3 linked regions of the Homo sapiens genome follow. The protein of the gene in region 3 interacts with the protein of the main gene of each other region in a biochemical or structural test. Each region holds a gene or a part of one and is shown on either strand. Other genes may lie near its edges.

What was found.
Region 1: the proteins of GRK6 (region 3) and ADRB2 form a complex in vitro, tested with the Homo sapiens proteins (2 studies listed by BioGRID, with this or other methods).
Region 2: of the proteins of GRK6 (region 3) and SNCB, one has a biochemical effect on the other in vitro, tested with the Homo sapiens proteins (one study listed by BioGRID).

What each region holds. Positions count from the first base shown.
Region 1 is NC_000005.10:148,824,866-148,828,611, forward strand, and holds the start of ADRB2 (beta-2 adrenergic receptor), read left to right. Parts: upstream 1-1,745; 5' UTR 1,746-1,966; coding exon 1,967-3,208; 3' UTR 3,209-3,746. UniProt on the Homo sapiens protein: Beta-adrenergic receptors mediate the catecholamine-induced activation of adenylate cyclase through the action of G proteins. The beta-2-adrenergic receptor binds epinephrine with an approximately 30-fold greater affinity than it does norepinephrine.
Region 2 is NC_000005.10:176,628,379-176,632,124, reverse strand, and holds the start of SNCB (beta-synuclein), read left to right. Parts: upstream 1-1,590; 5' UTR 1,591-1,845; intron 1,846-2,159; exon of another isoform or gene 2,160-2,316; intron 2,317-2,461; 5' UTR 2,462-2,470; coding exon 2,471-2,591; intron 2,592-2,624; exon of another isoform or gene 2,625-2,686; intron 2,687-3,746. UniProt on the Homo sapiens protein: Non-amyloid component of senile plaques found in Alzheimer disease. Could act as a regulator of SNCA aggregation process. Protects neurons from staurosporine and 6-hydroxy dopamine (6OHDA)-stimulated caspase activation in a p53/TP53-dependent manner.
Region 3 is NC_000005.10:177,424,576-177,428,321, forward strand, and holds the start of GRK6 (G protein-coupled receptor kinase 6), read left to right. Parts: upstream 1-2,100; 5' UTR 2,101-2,270; coding exon 2,271-2,322; intron 2,323-3,746.

The sequences.
Region 1 (3,746 bases), about 29 Mb from region 3:
ATTAAATAGAATAATGCATGAAAAGCAAATAGCAGAATGGTCCATAAATGTTAACCATTGTTATGTTATTATGTAATCTACAAAGTACGTTTAGTTACACTTCATGAAATACTTTCAGTTTTTCAAAGACACCACTAATACATGGGAAATCAAACCCTGAAAATTAATTTCACTTTAGCAGTAAAGTCACATGCCAGATGGAAAGGATAGTATTTCATGAACAAAGATCTTACTTTTGAGATTTGGTCTTACTTTTTTCTTTTTCTTAAGGGAGAATTATCTTGTGTTTTTTGTTTTGTTTTGTTTTGAGATGGAGTCTTGTTCTGTCACCCAGGCTGGAGCGCAGTGACGTGATCTCGGCTCACTGCAACCTTCACCTCCCGGGTTCAAGAGATTCTCCTGTCTCAGCCTCCCGAGTAGCTGGGACTACAGGTACGTGCCACCACACCTGGCTAATTTTTGTATTTTTAGTAGAGACAAGAGTTACACCATATTGGCCAGGATCTTTTGCTTTCTATAGCTTCAAAATGTTCTTAATGTTAAGACATTCTTAATACTCTGAACCATATGAATTTGCCATTTTGGTAAGTCACAGACGCCAGATGGTGGCAATTTCACATGGCACAACCCGAAAGATTAACAAACTATCCAGCAGATGAAAGGATTTTTTTTAGTTTCATTGGGTTTACTGAAGAAATTGTTTGAATTCTCATTGCATCTCCAGTTCAACAGATAATGAGTGAGTGATGCCACACTCTCAAGAGTTAAAAACAAAACAACAAAAAAATTAAAACAAAAGCACACAACTTTCTCTCTCTGTCCCAAAATACATACTTGCATACCCCCGCTCCAGATAAAATCCAAAGGGTAAAACTGTCTTCATGCCTGCAAATTCCTAAGGAGGGCACCTAAAGTACTTGACAGCGAGTGTGCTGAGGAAATCAGCAGCTGTTGAAGTCACCTCCTGTGCTCTTGCCAAATGTTTGAAAGGGAATACACTGGGTTACCGGGTGTATGTTGGGAGGGGAGCATTATCAGTGCTCGGGTGAGGCAAGTTCGGAGTACCCAGATGGAGACATCCGTGTCTGTGTCGCTCTGGATGCCTCCAAGCCAGCGTGTGTTTACTTTCTGTGTGTGTCACCATGTCTTTGTGCTTCTGGGTGCTTCTGTGTTTGTTTCTGGCCGCGTTTCTGTGTTGGACAGGGGTGACTTTGTGCCGGATGGCTTCTGTGTGAGAGCGCGCGCGAGTGTGCATGTCGGTGAGCTGGGAGGGTGTGTCTCAGTGTCTATGGCTGTGGTTCGGTATAAGTCTGAGCATGTCTGCCAGGGTGTATTTGTGCCTGTATGTGCGTGCCTCGGTGGGCACTCTCGTTTCCTTCCGAATGTGGGGCAGTGCCGGTGTGCTGCCCTCTGCCTTGAGACCTCAAGCCGCGCAGGCGCCCAGGGCAGGCAGGTAGCGGCCACAGAAGAGCCAAAAGCTCCCGGGTTGGCTGGTAAGGACACCACCTCCAGCTTTAGCCCTCTGGGGCCAGCCAGGGTAGCCGGGAAGCAGTGGTGGCCCGCCCTCCAGGGAGCAGTTGGGCCCCGCCCGGGCCAGCCCCAGGAGAAGGAGGGCGAGGGGAGGGGAGGGAAAGGGGAGGAGTGCCTCGCCCCTTCGCGGCTGCCGGCGTGCCATTGGCCGAAAGTTCCCGTACGTCACGGCGAGGGCAGTTCCCCTAAAGTCCTGTGCACATAACGGGCAGAACGCACTGCGAAGCGGCTTCTTCAGAGCACGGGCTGGAACTGGCAGGCACCGCGAGCCCCTAGCACCCGACAAGCTGAGTGTGCAGGACGAGTCCCCACCACACCCACACCACAGCCGCTGAATGAGGCTTCCAGGCGTCCGCTCGCGGCCCGCAGAGCCCCGCCGTGGGTCCGCCCGCTGAGGCGCCCCCAGCCAGTGCGCTCACCTGCCAGACTGCGCGCCATGGGGCAACCCGGGAACGGCAGCGCCTTCTTGCTGGCACCCAATGGAAGCCATGCGCCGGACCACGACGTCACGCAGGAAAGGGACGAGGTGTGGGTGGTGGGCATGGGCATCGTCATGTCTCTCATCGTCCTGGCCATCGTGTTTGGCAATGTGCTGGTCATCACAGCCATTGCCAAGTTCGAGCGTCTGCAGACGGTCACCAACTACTTCATCACTTCACTGGCCTGTGCTGATCTGGTCATGGGCCTGGCAGTGGTGCCCTTTGGGGCCGCCCATATTCTTATGAAAATGTGGACTTTTGGCAACTTCTGGTGCGAGTTTTGGACTTCCATTGATGTGCTGTGCGTCACGGCCAGCATTGAGACCCTGTGCGTGATCGCAGTGGATCGCTACTTTGCCATTACTTCACCTTTCAAGTACCAGAGCCTGCTGACCAAGAATAAGGCCCGGGTGATCATTCTGATGGTGTGGATTGTGTCAGGCCTTACCTCCTTCTTGCCCATTCAGATGCACTGGTACCGGGCCACCCACCAGGAAGCCATCAACTGCTATGCCAATGAGACCTGCTGTGACTTCTTCACGAACCAAGCCTATGCCATTGCCTCTTCCATCGTGTCCTTCTACGTTCCCCTGGTGATCATGGTCTTCGTCTACTCCAGGGTCTTTCAGGAGGCCAAAAGGCAGCTCCAGAAGATTGACAAATCTGAGGGCCGCTTCCATGTCCAGAACCTTAGCCAGGTGGAGCAGGATGGGCGGACGGGGCATGGACTCCGCAGATCTTCCAAGTTCTGCTTGAAGGAGCACAAAGCCCTCAAGACGTTAGGCATCATCATGGGCACTTTCACCCTCTGCTGGCTGCCCTTCTTCATCGTTAACATTGTGCATGTGATCCAGGATAACCTCATCCGTAAGGAAGTTTACATCCTCCTAAATTGGATAGGCTATGTCAATTCTGGTTTCAATCCCCTTATCTACTGCCGGAGCCCAGATTTCAGGATTGCCTTCCAGGAGCTTCTGTGCCTGCGCAGGTCTTCTTTGAAGGCCTATGGGAATGGCTACTCCAGCAACGGCAACACAGGGGAGCAGAGTGGATATCACGTGGAACAGGAGAAAGAAAATAAACTGCTGTGTGAAGACCTCCCAGGCACGGAAGACTTTGTGGGCCATCAAGGTACTGTGCCTAGCGATAACATTGATTCACAAGGGAGGAATTGTAGTACAAATGACTCACTGCTGTAAAGCAGTTTTTCTACTTTTAAAGACCCCCCCCCCCAACAGAACACTAAACAGACTATTTAACTTGAGGGTAATAAACTTAGAATAAAATTGTAAAATTGTATAGAGATATGCAGAAGGAAGGGCATCCTTCTGCCTTTTTTATTTTTTTAAGCTGTAAAAAGAGAGAAAACTTATTTGAGTGATTATTTGTTATTTGTACAGTTCAGTTCCTCTTTGCATGGAATTTGTAAGTTTATGTCTAAAGAGCTTTAGTCCTAGAGGACCTGAGTCTGCTATATTTTCATGACTTTTCCATGTATCTACCTCACTATTCAAGTATTAGGGGTAATATATTGCTGCTGGTAATTTGTATCTGAAGGAGATTTTCCTTCCTACACCCTTGGACTTGAGGATTTTGAGTATCTCGGACCTTTCAGCTGTGAACATGGACTCTTCCCCCACTCCTCTTATTTGCTCACACGGGGTATTTTAGGCAGGGATTTGAGGAGCAGCTTCAGTTGTTTTCCCGAGCAAAGTCTAAAGTTTACAGTAAATAAAT
Region 2 (3,746 bases), 800 kb from region 3:
TACTTATACATAAAATATAATTCCCTTTGTATCAAAATTGGCTCATTCCACACATTCCAGTTTGGCACCTTGCTTCTCACACTTACCACCACATCTTGGCACACTCCCATGTCAGCACACATGGGTCTAGCTCATCTTTGCCAACCATAGTGTGGCATTGCACTGGGTGGATGTGCCACAGTTAGCTAGCCAGTCCTGTACAGATGATCATTTAGATCATTTTCAGTTTTTTGCTACAAAAAAACATGCTACAGTGAACATCCTTGCACAGGTATCTTTGTGTGCATGTATGGCTAGAGTCGCACGGGATCAATTCCTGGAAGGGGAGCTGTTGGCTCCAAAGGCGCATGCATTTATGCTTGGTAAACATTGCCAGATTGCCTTCCAAAATGTCTGCGCCAATTTGCAGTTCTACCAGCGGCCTGTGAATGTTTTTTGTTTGGTTGGTTGGGTTTTTTCCTTTTTTTTTTTTTTTGCAGTCTGGCTGCTGGTGGCCCCCTCGCCTAATTACCTGTCACTTACACACCCTGCATTTCTGGCCACAGTGCCTTTGCCCATGCTGTACCCACAGCCTAAAATTCTCTTTCTCCCTAGCCTGCTCGATGAAATAGTCCCCTTCCTGTCAGGCCACAGTTCAGTTGTCACCTCTTTTTTATGTCCTTTCCTGACTCCCCTAAGTTGTCAGAGTCCCTTTCCTCTGGGATACTACAGCTTCTTGGGCATAATTCTATCATAGAACCAACTGAGGGCCTACTGTGTGCCTGGCATTCTGTGATCATTTTGACAGTCCCCACCGTAAGCACACAAAAAAGTGGTTTTGTTCTCCACCTCCCTCCATCCTGGCTCTCCAGCTGCGCTGTCTTTTGTCAGCACAGTCCTGCCTTGGAGCCTTTGCACTTGCACTCTCTATGGATCTTGTCCTCACCCATCGTGGTGTCATGGTGCCTCTCTGGAGTCTCTGCTACAATTCACCTGCTGGTAGAGGCCTTCCCTGAGCACCCTGTCTCAAGCACCCCTCCTCTAGTCCCCGTGTTACATCACCGTTACCTTCACAACTTACAAGCTGTAATGACCTTGTTGCTTTGGATGTTGATCCGTTTATTTTCTGTCCTGTCTTCCACCACTGAGCGCACGAACACACACGCGTACAGACACCCCCATGGTAAGCTTCCCGAGACCAGGAACCTTGTTTTCCTTTTCCGCTGCCTCCAGCCTTAAACCTGCACCACTGGACTAAGCGCTCAGTAAACATTCGTTGAATTAACCATTCCTGTTTTACAGAGGAGGAAACTGTCATTCAGAAAGGAGAGCCGAGTAGCTCAAGGTCCCACGGTTAATAAAAAGCACAGCTGAGATTCGAGCCCAGCAGAACTCCAAATCCAGTCGCGTGATTTCTTCCCCACTCTTCACACGCCGCGTTGTCCCCCTCCCTCAACTCCCAACAGACTACGCGAGTCTTACGGCCGGGGCCCCCAGGGGCGCGTCCCGGGCCCGCCCCGGGAGGCTCATCGGCTACGCGCTGTCACCCTCCCCGCCCCCTGTCAGTCAGGCCGAAGGGGCGGCGCGGCCGCCAGCGGGGGCGCTGAGCTCAGAGCTGCCGCAGCGCCGGAGCCGGAGCCGGAGCCGGAGCGCGCGAGCTCGCAGGGCGCGAGGAACGAGCGGTGGCTGGCTACGCACCCGAGACCCGGGCACTGCTGCGCTCCTGCTCAGGACCCGCGACCCGAGCGCCTGATCCCGGCCCTATCCCCCCTCCGGCCCCTGGTCCACCCCGGCCTGGCCTAGCGGAGCCCCCGCGTCCGCCCGCCGCAGCCGCCGCTCCATCCCCAGCCCCGGCCCCGCATCCAGGTGAGGCGGCCGCGCGCCGGGGATGGGGAACGGGATGAGGATGGAGAGGGGACTGGGGCGACAGGAGGGAGCTGGGGAAGGGGATGGAAAATGGAGGGAGACCCGGGGGATGCGCGTCAGTGTGCACCCCGGAGTATGTGAGTATGCTCCGGTGTTTGCAGCTGCCCGGGCGGCTGTGGGGACGTGTGTCCGCGCCCATGTGGGTCGGGGTATTCGTGCGCGTTGGAGCGTCTGCGTGTCCTGTGTGTGCACGTGAGCTTGTCCGTGGTGTATGTTTGTGTGCATGACCGTGTGACTGTGCCGTGCGTGTACAGGCGGGTCCTGGATATTCGCGCCGAACCCAGCACTCCGGTTCGACGGGGCTGCAGTTTGCAGGGCCCGGATAACCGAGGCAGTGGCCCCTCCCGCGTCCCCAGGTTTCAAGGACGCTAGGACTCTCCGCGGCCCTGAGGCTTCGCACTGGGGAGTGGGGTGGGATGGGGGGAAAGCGGGAGGGGGCTCAGGGTCCAGAAGGGCGCCGCGGTCTCGGGAGTAGGGGGGCATCTGCGTCCCGCGGGAGGGGCTGGGGTGAGAGTGCGGGGCCAGTGCACCGGTGCCCGTGTATCGCCCTCCCCAGGCCGCCAGGATGGACGTGTTCATGAAGGGCCTGTCCATGGCCAAGGAGGGCGTTGTGGCAGCCGCGGAGAAAACCAAGCAGGGGGTCACCGAGGCGGCGGAGAAGACCAAGGAGGGCGTCCTCTACGTCGGTGGGTAAGGGGCGGGGTTTCTGGGGCTGCAGGGCTGGGGGTCCCCCGACAGTGTGGAGCTGGGGCCGGGTCCCGGGGAGGGGGGTTCTGGGCAGGAGAATATGAGTCAGCAGATGGGGCGAGGTCAGCAGGGGTCATAGGGGACATAGCCAGCCCATAGAAGCCTGGGTCTGTATCCGGAAATGGGGACACGGGGCGGGCTGATGAGGTGGGGGGCTCCAGCTGAAAGGCCAGGGACCAGTGCAGTGATGAAAGCAGACAGCCTCCTTTTTCTTATCTTTTTTACCATTATTAATAGTTATCTGGTGTTGAACACTTTCTGTATGCCAAGTACTGGGTAAAATGTCATAACATCCATTTCCTCATGTAATGCTTCGGCCCATTCTACAGGTAAGGGAAACTGGGCTTCCCAGAGATCTAAGTACCTTGCCCAAGGTCAGCAGCTGGTAAATGCTGAAGCTGGGGTTTGAACGGAGCTTTATAGATTCTGAAGCCCCACCCCTCCCCTTGTGGCGCCTCCCTCCAGCACCTCCAAGGCCGAGTTGAGTTGCGTTCCAGGTCCACCTGCATCACAACTCTTGTGGTTTTACCTTTGCCAGCTCTCTTCCCCGTCCACTTTCCTTGCAACCACTGGCTGGTATCAGAAGAAAGGCCAGGGTTGGATAACTTGCCCAGGGTCGTGGCATATTTGGATTGTGGCCATTTGAAAAATATTTTGTGTCCACTTACTATGTGCCAGGCATCCTGCAGATGCTGGGGTTTCACAGTGAACAGGAAAGAATGGTTCCTGATCTCCTGATGGTGATACAGAGCATTTCAGCAGTGCGAGTTGACATCCAGTGGCTCCCTGAAGAGAATGCCTCATCCCTGAGTAATAAGAGGGGGGCAGGGCTGCAGAAAAGCCAGGTGCAAAGGCCCTGGGGTGAGCTGGGGGCAGGGCAGGAAGTAGTGGTAGGAGGTGAGGTCAGAGCGATGGGCAGGAGACAGTTCACGAGGGCCCTTTGCAGGCCAGGGCAAAACGTTGTTATCATGGCCACGAGAGACTGTAAGCAAGGGACTGCCATGATGTGATTAGTTTAGAACGGTCACTTGGGCCTCTGGGGACAGAAAAACTGCAGGGAGGCCTGATGAGGCCACAGGATGAGGGTGGCAGGG
Region 3 (3,746 bases):
CTTGCCCCCATGTCGACCCCATTGTGTACCACTGTGTACCTTTAAACCCCAGCTGGATGCTTAGGTGCTGAACGCAGGAGCCCTTCCTGACTTCCTCTACGGAACTTCGAACATGTGATACCCCTCTGTCCAGAAGGCTCTTTCCCTCCCTACTCCAGTAACCTGCACATTTTCACTGAATCTTCAGATTTCACTTGGACACAACAGCCTTCACTAAGTGAGGTACCTGCCCTATGTTCCACTGGGCCCTGGGTTTCCCTTTTTTTTTTTTTTTTTTGAGACGGAGTCTCACTCTGTTGCCCAGGCTGGAGTGTATTGGCACGATCTCGGCCCACTGCAAGCTCCACCTCCCAGGTTCACACCATTCTCCTGCCTCAGCCTCCCAAGTAGCTGGGACTACAGGTGCCCGCCACCATGCCCGGCTAATTTTTTGTATTTTTAGTAGAGACGGGGTTTCACCGCATTAGCCAGGAGGGTTTCCCTCTTTTAAGGTACTTAACTCCCTAGATCCTAGATCCATCCACTTTTCTCCGTCTCTATTGCCACCTTGTAGGTCCAGGCCACCACCATCTCTTTACTGGAATTCTGTAAACTCCTGACTGCTCTGCTTCCACTCTTGGCCCCCTAGGAATCCACCAGAGTGATATTTTTAAAATATAAATCATTCTTTCAAATGTTTCACATTTCACTTAGCAAAAACACTTCAGCCTCCTGGACGTGTTCACAGTCCTCCATGACCTAGCTAGTGCCTTTGCTCCTTCTGTCTCATCTCAGACCACTGGGCCCAGAAGCTGCGGACGCCTTCTCCTATTCCCTGAACACACCACTTAGTCTGGCTTAGAGCCTCTGCGTTTGCTGTTGCTTCTACTGGATCCGCTCAAATGTCACACCCTGAGAGTGTCACACACTCTCTTAACGTCCGAAGAGCAGTTGTCACTCTCTGAAACCATCTATTTGTTTATTTACAGAATAATTACCTTTATCTCACCCTGCCCTCACTTGCTCCCTCCACTTCTAGCAAGTAAGCAGGGAGCCTGGCTATCTTGCTGCCATCACTGTGTTCTCCAGCACCTGGCTTGGTGCCTGGCACAGAGGTGTTGCTCTGTATTTTCGGATGAATGAATGCATAGGAACTAGAGAAGCCTAGATGGATCCGGCTCTGCCTTACTCGCGGAGTTTGGGCAAGCCTGTTTCCTGCTGCGTGAAGTAGGGGGTGGAGGAAGCGGGGTGTTAAGCTACAAGGTGTTGATTAGCTGTAAGATTTCAGCCTTGTTTTCTCCGTAGTCTTCGGGCTGGAGCCAGCCACTTGACGTCCGGCGCCTCAGCTCCCCACCTGTATAATGGGTGTGAACTCATCCCGAGGTCTAGGGGTGGTAGCGCTGCCTTATAAGGCGGCAGAGGCCGAGGGAAGGCGAGGCCGAGTGGGTGGAGAGAAATCACAACATCCGGCTGCGGGGGCTGGGCGGGGCGCCTGCGGCGACCGGGCAAGAGGTCGGGGAACGGCTGCGAGGCCGCAGCCTCCTCCCTGTCTCTCCCTCTTTCGATGTGCGCCCTCCTGATTGGGGCCGACCCAAGGGAATACGGCCACACAAGTGGACCAAACAAACTCGCTGCCAGCCCGCAGGAGGCCCAGGATACGGAGCGCGTCCCCGACAAAACCCTAGAAAAGCCGTCTGCGAGCCAAAGGCCGCCGGGCCACACCTTCAGGCGACGACCCAATCAAAATGCAGTACTTGAGATGACGGACGTCTTCTTCACCCAATCACATATTCGGCCTCCTGGGCGTGCCCCAGAGTACCCACCTCCATTGTCCCGGCTGAGGGCTCGGCCCTAATTGGCAGTTTGGTATCCTACGAAAGCCTAGAAATTCGAACCTAGGGGCTGAACCCCGCCCTCAGACCAACCAGGAAGAGGTGACGTGATTGGTCCCGCCCCCGTACTTCTTTGAGCGAGTCCCCAGCTGGGGGGGCGGGGGAAAAAATGAAGAGGAAGACTAATGGGAAGACGGCGCGGGGAGCTTCTGCCCGGTGATTGGTCAAATGAGGTAAACAGAGGGCGGGGCAGGGCGGGCCAGCGCCGGGGTGGCCCCCGGGAGGGGGCGGAGAGTGCGCGGCTGGCTGCGGCGGCCGGGGAGGCCGGGGAGGCCGCGGCGCGGTCACTGCGAGCCGAGCCGAGCCGCGCCGAGCCGCGCCGATCGCCATCCGGCCTCGGCACTCGCGCGCGATCCCGGCCGGCGGCGCGGCCCGGCGGGCCAGGCGGCGCCACAGCCCATGGAGCTCGAGAACATCGTAGCGAACACGGTGCTACTCAAGGCCCGGGAAGGTGAGGCGGCCGGGTGGGCGGCCGGGCCCGGGTGCGTGGAGCGCGAGTGCGCTGCGTCTGAGCTCCGCAGGGCTACCCAGCCGTCGGATCCCCTAGGCCCGCGGGCCCTGCGCCTTACACCCCGCCCAGACACGAGCCTTTCCGGCCCGTCGTCTTCCTCCTCCGCACCTGCCCCCGGGATTCGGGGCCCAGGAAGGGGCGGGGGTCAGGCCGCCGCCCTCGCGGCGGGTGGGGGTGAAGGAGTGAAAGAAGGTGAGACGAAGAGGGAAGGGTGGGACCGGAGCCCCAGGAGAGCCTGTCTGAGAGGCAAGCCTCCTCCAGGGGAGAGGTGTAAAGATGCCCCACGTGCCAGGGGCCCAGACCCCAGCACCCTAGCCTAATCCCGCGCAAAGTTGGCGATAGGTAAAGCTGGAGAATGAATAAACGGACCCTCTGCGTAGCACAGCCCACCTGACTTGGGGAAACTCCTGGCCACAAATGCTACTTATAGGACTGCCACTTGCTCCGTGCCTCAGGACACTGAGGGCAGAGGTGAATGGATATTTGCCCTCAGGGAGCCCATGGTCTAGTGGGGCTAGCGGACACAGAAAGAAGTGGGAGCAGAGCATGCTGCTCTGTCAGTATTGTAAGCTCAGAGGTCTGGCTGGGGAAACCAGTCTGGTGGACCGAGTGTGTGTGTAGCTCCTCGTGGCTCCCACCCCAGATGTTATCAGGCACTTGCTCTGTGCAGGTCCTGGGAGACACAGAAGGACCAGATCGGGTCCTCACTGCCTTGTGGTCAGTCTGCCCCCACCTGCCACACTCCACCTCAGTAACATGATCACTGACCACCCACTCTGCCCCACCTTTTCCAGGGTGCTGGGGAAGCAGCAGTAAACAAGACCCATCTTTTTGGAACTCCAGGGCAAGGAGGGAGATTGTGACAGTTTTTCCACCCTTTGCTGGGCTTCCAGGCTTAAAAAGTCATCTGCTTCACCTTTCTACCATATTTTACATGTGGGAAGCTGAGGCTCAAACCAGGGATTAGCATCAGTCACACAGCAAGATTGTGATTGACTCGGGCCTAAGACACAGGATGACCGGCACAGTCTATAGGAAGCCCAGAGGAACTTTCAGCTGGGTGCTACACCTGGCACCCCGTGCCCACCAAGTGCTCTGGCGAGGTGCAGCCCAGAAATGGCATGGCAGGCTGGGTCCTCATTGCCTGGGGAGCCTGTCTTATCCCCTGTCCCTTATCGAGCCCATGGGCTAGGCCTTCCTCCCAGCCTCTGGGGGCATCTGCCGATTCTGTTCTGCCTCGTCATCCAACCAGCCAGGGAGGAGGGGTGGGGAGGGCCGAAACAGGCCTTCTTCCCTAGGGCTGTAGCCAGTTAAGGCCTCAGGCCTGCTGATGGCACTGCCTGGCCGGAGAGTGTGGGTACCTT